Homo sapiens: one gene and its partner. The protein of the gene in region 1 purifies or fractionates together with the protein of each later gene. This does not show direct contact. Each region holds a gene or a part of one and is shown on either strand. Other genes may lie near its edges.

Region 1 (3,737 bases):
TTTGCAAACCCAGTGAGTCTTGCTCTTGTTGGAATTACTCAGACATACAGAAAACTGAGGGGATTAAATATTAATAGATTGGATATTTGAACATGAAATCCTTAAAACATAAAAAATGGGGAAGGAAAGGTCAAGTAATGAGCTGTAATTAGAAAACAGGATTAAATAAGAGCACTTCAAAAGTTACACCCTGTTCTCTTCATTCAGTAATTGCTTTTAATCTCAAAGTCAAAATTTCTTACTCTTCTATTCCTTTATGTTTGGAAATAAAATCCTATAGTTTTTCTTTAATGTTTATCTCTATAAATACAGATCCTCAAACAAATCCTAGGACTCTTGACTATTCTGTCCTTATGGCTACACCCAGACGATACCATCTGCCGACAAGGGCTCATATGAATGGAGAAACTCATTGCTTTGCCGAATTCAGCTTTTTAAATTGGATCCAATTAGATTTGTTTAAAATACATCTACATCTAAAATTCTGAGACTGCTTAGAAGTCTTAAGGTTTCTCCTAGTTAAGCATTTTCATGATTACAAAATCGCTTGGGAAATAATGGATACAACCTTATTTGGAATATTTCCCAGCAAATCAGGGACTATCTTAGGAAATTATGTCACCAATATATAGTAGCCTTTACTTTAAAAAAAATGCTAATTATCCCTTAGAGAAATTCTTAGGCTTCAAGTTTTCATTTGTTTATGGCTTTCATATTCTATGACCTTTTGCCAGTGTCATGATCTCTCAGTAAATCAGAAGTCACGAATTCCCAACAGTGAACCTGTTAAAGAGGTAGAGAGTCACTTTGAAGACTAGTCATTATAACAAACACTTCATTTATTACTTGTGTTTATTTACACTATTTACATATTGCACAATAGCTGGAATACTATTTTACATTTATAATACAAACGACCAACAGAATTAGCCACAGATTTACACTCCACTGTCTCTAAAACATGACCGAAATTTTAATTTTTCATGCCGTTCCAAATAATACTCTGAGAATTTAACAGTGAAAGTAATACAGAATATCAAATTATGTTATATGAAAATATACTTTAAGATTCTGCTTATGTTTCTAAAGAAATATTTTTTGCGATTTCACCTAATGAAGACAATGAAATATTCTGTGTTTTATAGCACTACACGTCAAATGTGGAGCATTCCTTTTGTGTTTTTTTTTTAAATAAGTGACAGATAACACTGTCAAGTACACTGATTTATCGAATATATATCTGCAAACTGTCAACAACATACAAAACTCAAAGGACTTATGGAAGAGTCTGTCTGCAAAAATAAATCTCTTGTCCATGAGGGGATGTGTATAAAGATAGTTCTGTTTCCCTGTTGGTTTCCAAGGCACTTCTCATGGCTCCTGGTGTGCTGCTCCTGTACGGTCTGCTCACTGCTGAAAACAAATACATTGCGTGTGATATGACTATCCACACTTCTTAATGTCAATTCCAGAAGACCTGTCACTTCAGTTAGGGGACACAACATGTTTATAAACATAGGCAGTCTCAGAGTGCATCTGTATTTCTCTGTGATCCAAAAAGTGTAGTCTATTGTATTTTTAAAAATACCTTCTTTCTGCAGTTGTTACATGGCTGCAATGCTAAAGCAATGAAAATCATCACAGATACATGTGGATGCTTTATTACAGCTTGAAGAGTGCTTAGTCTTACATGTGCTATCAGAATCCTCAGTAGTCTAGGCCACAGGGATTAACCTGGCAGTTCTGCAACCTCAGTGTTCACAGGGTTGGTAAAGCTAATAATCGAGATTAGACATTTGTTTCTAGCATTCTTTGTTGGAATATCTAAACCATTGGTATTCTATTTATTTTTAAAGAATGATAAACTTCAAGGTTACTAAGATTAGGCTGCATTTGGGAGAGTACACCATGTACTCACTACTCAAAACTCCATTTCTTTGACAATATTCCAGAGCTCAGGCTTCTGATTAACTGACCTGTAAGTCCGGACAATGAAGTGTATCTGTGACTGTTAGGGAGGGTTGGTGGGGACATTGTTCTCTTTGGCCTGAGGAGGTCTATTAATGAGCTTCAGAACGCGGCAAATGGATTTGCTCTGAGGTGAGGAGGGCAGAGCCCTTCCTGCTAAAGGCCTGCTTTTCTCAGGCTCTGGGCCTTTCTTTACAAAGACAAGGTCATGGTTTACGGTCTTGCCCTGCCATCCTTGTGTGTCAGGACAGAAGTGCATGTGGCAGGTTAACCAGCAGAACTGGGACTGCAGGGCCTGCCTGATGCCACACCGTCACACGAGTGTGGGCACCCTGGGACACCTGCCCTGCCCTCTGGTGTCTCACTGAGGTCTGCAAAGCACAGAGAAAGCCCGGACTGTATCTACACTGTGGTGACCAGCCACAGTAAGAGTTTGCTGTTGCTGTTTAACAATTTGTTAACACCAGTAACAATTTGCTGTTGCTGTTTAAAACTTTTGGAATTTGAAGAAATTATCTTTAAAAAATAGGAGTTATGAAATTATAGTTAACAGGGTATCAATATTTTAAACTTTACCTATCTCTTGGCCAAAATGAACCCAGTTACAGCTGTGACACCTGTGGCTGTCAAGCAGGTGGCCTTTTGGGGACAGAAGCTTGCGAGCCTGGGCCTTGTCTTGTTACCTTTACCTGCATCTCATCGTCAGTCAGGCTCTGATGTGGTTGTCTGGTGATGGGGAGAGTGATGTGAAGAGTGCTGGGGACTATCAAGGGGATTCTGCCACAGCTTTTCTGCAGGGCATCACTGTGGCGTTTGCAAAGCAGGACGTGCGCACGCAGAGACCCATACAGGAGCCTGAGTCCCACTGACATGACCACGTCCTTCAGTGTAACTGCACCTGCCTCCAGCAGCAGCCAGCGGAGGGGAGGCAGGGGTCGGCTAATGGGCATGTGGACGGAGTAGCTCTTCCAGTGGCTGAGACAGTGGGGAATTTGCTCTCCTCACTTGTAAGTAAGTGGAAAATTTCCAAGGATGTCCCTGGCCCATCTCTGGGAACACTGTGTTTAATTATAAAGAAATACCTAAAAAAAAAAAAAAATTCTCATCTCCCCTGGCATATCACCTTGGGTGACAGGAATGTACATCTGTTCACTGATTTAAACAGAAGAAAGTCTGTGTGACACATAGGCAGTGGATGAGCTGCTCGAGAGAATTGGAAAGAGCAGGGATGTGGGGAGACATTACTACACAGCACTTCCCAGCTTTGACTGACATTGACACCTTCACTATCTCCAAAGAAAAAGTGCAGTGAAACTGTGCAAAATGCAGTCTCAACCCGCCATTACCCACTGGCCTCCCTCCCCCAGTGCCATTCCTCTCATTAGCAGCAGTTTCTTCTACTGGGAAAGATGGAGTGGGGGATGCATGGGCAGGACCCGCCATGCCTCCTGCCGGTGTTGGGGTCATGCACACAACCCTTCTGCTGCTACCTAAATATTCATAAGCACTGCCTCTGCATAGAGAGCACATCTATATAGGAAAGAGCACTACCCTACCCTCATCCATTTTACATGAGAGAAACTAGAGTAACCACTATAAAAATACTCCCTTTTCATGAATGTGCTCCGGACAGCTATCAATGGACAGGAAGCCTGTCTTTCTTGTGCTGGTGTAGCCAGCATCTGGCAGTGCCCACATATACAAGACACATAGTAAGTATAAAATTGGTGAAATTACAGTTGCATCCTGCTGTCTAAAGTGACTGGATT
Region 2 (3,500 bases), about 130 Mb from region 1:
CCTCAGCCTCTCAAAGTGCTGGGATTACAGGCGTGAGCCACCTTGCCTGGCCAAAAGATTCTTAAAAAAACAATCTACTGATTCTCAAAGCCTAGTCTGAAAGGTAATTTCATTTGGACTATCTAATATTATTAAGGCAAAAAAAACACAACATTAAACAAAAGTTTAAATTTAAAAGTTTCCATGCCTCTGGCTGGCCATTTTCACTGCCTTTAAGCCTTTGTGACTCTTCCTCTGATGTCAGCTTTAAGTCTTGTTCTGTTGAAAAATCCATACATTCAGTTAAAATCAACCACTTAAAACAGTTAAAAACTATTGCCTTTTAAAAACAGATTTGAGACATTTCATTTTATTTCATAAATTGAGTGTTTCATCTTTTGTGAAATTGTCATTTAAGAAATAATTCTCAAAAACTTCAAAAACCCACTTGGGGAGATAGCAGATGTCACCAGATTGAAGACAAACAAACATGTCAAAAATTCCCTCACAAATTCATCCACCCAACATCCATGAACAAAACCACCAGAAACACAGCTTTAAAATACAGTAGAAACATATAAGGTGACACAGTGTACTGTTCTCCACTTCCTAATAGTACCTTATAAATGATTTCCAAAATCACTGCTGACACCTTTATTAGTGTACAACATCTTCCTAATATCTAAAATGTTTCTCTCCACTATTCTGACAAATTTATTTTCTTTTTTTCTTTTTTCTTTTTTTTTTTTTATGAGCTAGAGTCTTCCTCTGTCACCAGGCTGGAATGCAGTGGTGTGATCAGCTCACTGCAACCTCCGCGACCCTGGTTCAAGTGATTCTCCTGCTTCAGTCTCCTGAGTAACTGTGATTACAGGCAAGCACCACCACACCCAGCTGATTTTTGTATTTTTAGTAGAGATGGGGTTTCACCATTGGACAGGATGGTCTCGATCTCCTGACCTCGTGATTCCCTCTGAAAGTGCTGGGATTACAGGTGTGAGCCACCACACCTGGCCTTATTTTCATCTTTTGAAACAATGCTATATGAAGTTTTCCTTGATTCTGCATGTCTTTCCCCAAATAAACAGGTACCTCCTTCCTTGAGGCTGCCTTAGTACTTTACTGATTTTTCTACTGCATCTTGACCACCTAAACTGTACATTATTCCTCCACGTCTGTCCCCTCTGCTCCAAGACTGCAGGGGAGAGTCTTGCACATCATCTTTGTAAAAACAGTCTTTGTTTTACTCAGAAATATTTTATTGAGTCCTGCTAAATACATGCTAGGCATTAGGGTTTAAAAAGAATTAAAATAAAGCATGTCAGAGATGGCTTTTCTAGAACACATGCCCAAGCAGAGACTTAAATATTGAGACTAGCCAGATTAAAAGGTGTAGAGGGCAGGAAAGGGTGACGGCATGCCACGCAGCAGCAAGAGCGGGAGCGACTCCTGAAAGAGTGAAAGTATTTGCCTACAATAGAAGGATGAGTGAGTAGGGCACTGCCAGCAGTTCAGTAATGCCAGAGACAGGGCACACAGGGAAAAGGGCTAAAGATGGAGAGTGGGGCAGAAGTCAGATTATGAAAGCATTATGTGTAATTTTAAGATGCTTGAACATTAATGTTCAAAAGTGGTCCCGGGTCCTATCTGCATTTAGATATAGATCATTTCAATGCCAAAACCAATATTCCTAGTGAACAATTATTCATTAAGACAAGGTGACAGATAGCTCATGTGGACACAGCTGAGATGATACAATGTAGCAAATTCTAAACAATTCTCATGAACACTTGGAAAGTCAGTTCTATAATAAAGTCATACAAATTATAATAAATCAGTAAATATTTGGTTTCGGAAGATGCTTTGTAAAGTTATAATGCATATGAATACAATTAACAGTCGTGAATTCAGAGCTGTGAAAATAAATCAAAGAAACCACATTGTGTTTGAGTCAGCAATCTTTAGATTTCTATCCAGTCTTCCCATCCAGTCCATAAATTCTAAGTATAATCCTGGTACTCACTCTCAAGTTTACGTTAAATACTATCCCATTACAAAAAAACACTCTTTCTCTTACTTCTTTTCATTATGTCCTGCTAAAAAGATTCTGATTGGCTGCAGGCGGCAAGAGGGAAAAACACAAAGCACATTTTGCAGAAAATGATTATTTAGAAGTCAGAACTATGACATGAAGCCAAGCAGGGCACTCTAGGACCGAATTTGCTGTGCTGCCTTCATACGCTCCTTGCTCTTTCTTTTCTGGCAGCTGTGACTCACACAGGTCATGGAGAGTATCATTCCCTAAGAGGAACAACTCCGATATTCATCTTTATCTATTAAGTTCATCTGTCCCAATTCTGTGTTCTGTGGATGCTGACTTTCTGTCACGGACGATGATGCACATGGACATTTATTACTGACTTTCAGATTCTTGGATCTTTGACAAGTCTTATTACTTAGAGTCAAACTAGTAGGATGCGAGTTATAAATGCTGATTATCCAATTACCTACTCAAAATACCCTACACGAATATTCCATTAAACATGCATCGAAAAACATTAGTCATTCCTGCTGACCTGCTGCTCTTTGCTCTTCTGTATTCACCAGAAAATTTCCTACTCCTTCCTCATGTCCAGGTTAAATACTAGTGTGCAATCTGGAAACCTGTACATCATCTGAGATTTCTCTCTGTCCCCCAAGCCTTTCTCATTCAATTATCACTAAATCATATTGACTATACCTCTCTTCTGCCTCTGTTTTATATTCCCACTGCCACTGGGAACACAAACATTTACAAAATGACTTCTATTTAAAAGAAAACTGCCAACTATTAATGTTATTTCTTACAGGAAAAAAAATTAAGCAAAACAAGTGAAAAGGGCATAACGAAGGCCAACATAGTAAAATGAGTAACTGAGATTTCTAACGTTATTTATTTCACCATGGACGGGTGAAAACCTTGTAATACATTGATGCTACTCCAAGGATGTGTGACATGGAAACTATAGCTGACTACTGCAAAAGCTTCCTTTGTCTCCTGGTTTCTTTGCATGATTATCTCCCATCAATCCCAGGAAACTATAGGCCACAGGCCAAATCCAATCTGCATTATGGTTTTGTAAATAAAGTTTTATAGGAGCTCAGTCATGCCTGTTTGCTTACATATAATCATGGTGGCTTTCACACTACAACAGCAGACAACAGCACGGTTAAGTAGATATGACAGAGACCACATAGTCCAAAATATTTCCCACCTGGTCCTTTAAAGAAAAAGCTTGCTAACCCATTTTACACCATAACCAGAATGCCTTAATACTCAAATTTAATCTTGTGGCTCCCCTGCTCAAATTTCTCCAATGAGCCCCCTCCAGCACACATTGTTGGCTCCCTATCAATAGCCATTCCTCATTCTTTCTGGCAGAAAAAACATAAGTCTATTGGGATATTTAATATCCCAATCCCCCTCCTCAGCCTCAGAAAGAAATGTTTATTCTAAGCTAATCAGATATTTACCTTCCCAG

The links.
Region 2: the proteins of ALKAL2 (region 1) and POTEE purify together in Homo sapiens (affinity purification with mass spectrometry; one large-scale study listed by BioGRID and IntAct). This does not show direct contact.

The regions. Positions count from the first base shown.
Region 1 is NC_000002.12:278,740-282,476, forward strand, and holds the end of ALKAL2 (ALK and LTK ligand 2 precursor), read right to left. Parts: intron 1,414-3,737; coding exon 1,408-1,413; 3' UTR 819-1,407; downstream 1-818. UniProt on the Homo sapiens protein: Cytokine that acts as a physiological ligand for receptor tyrosine kinases LTK and ALK, leading to their activation. Cytokine-binding is sufficient to activate LTK. In contrast, ALKAL2-driven activation of ALK is coupled with heparin-binding to ALK.
Region 2 is NC_000002.12:131,247,536-131,251,035, reverse strand, and holds part of POTEE (POTE ankyrin domain family member E), read right to left. Parts: intron 259-3,500; coding exon 188-258; intron 1-187.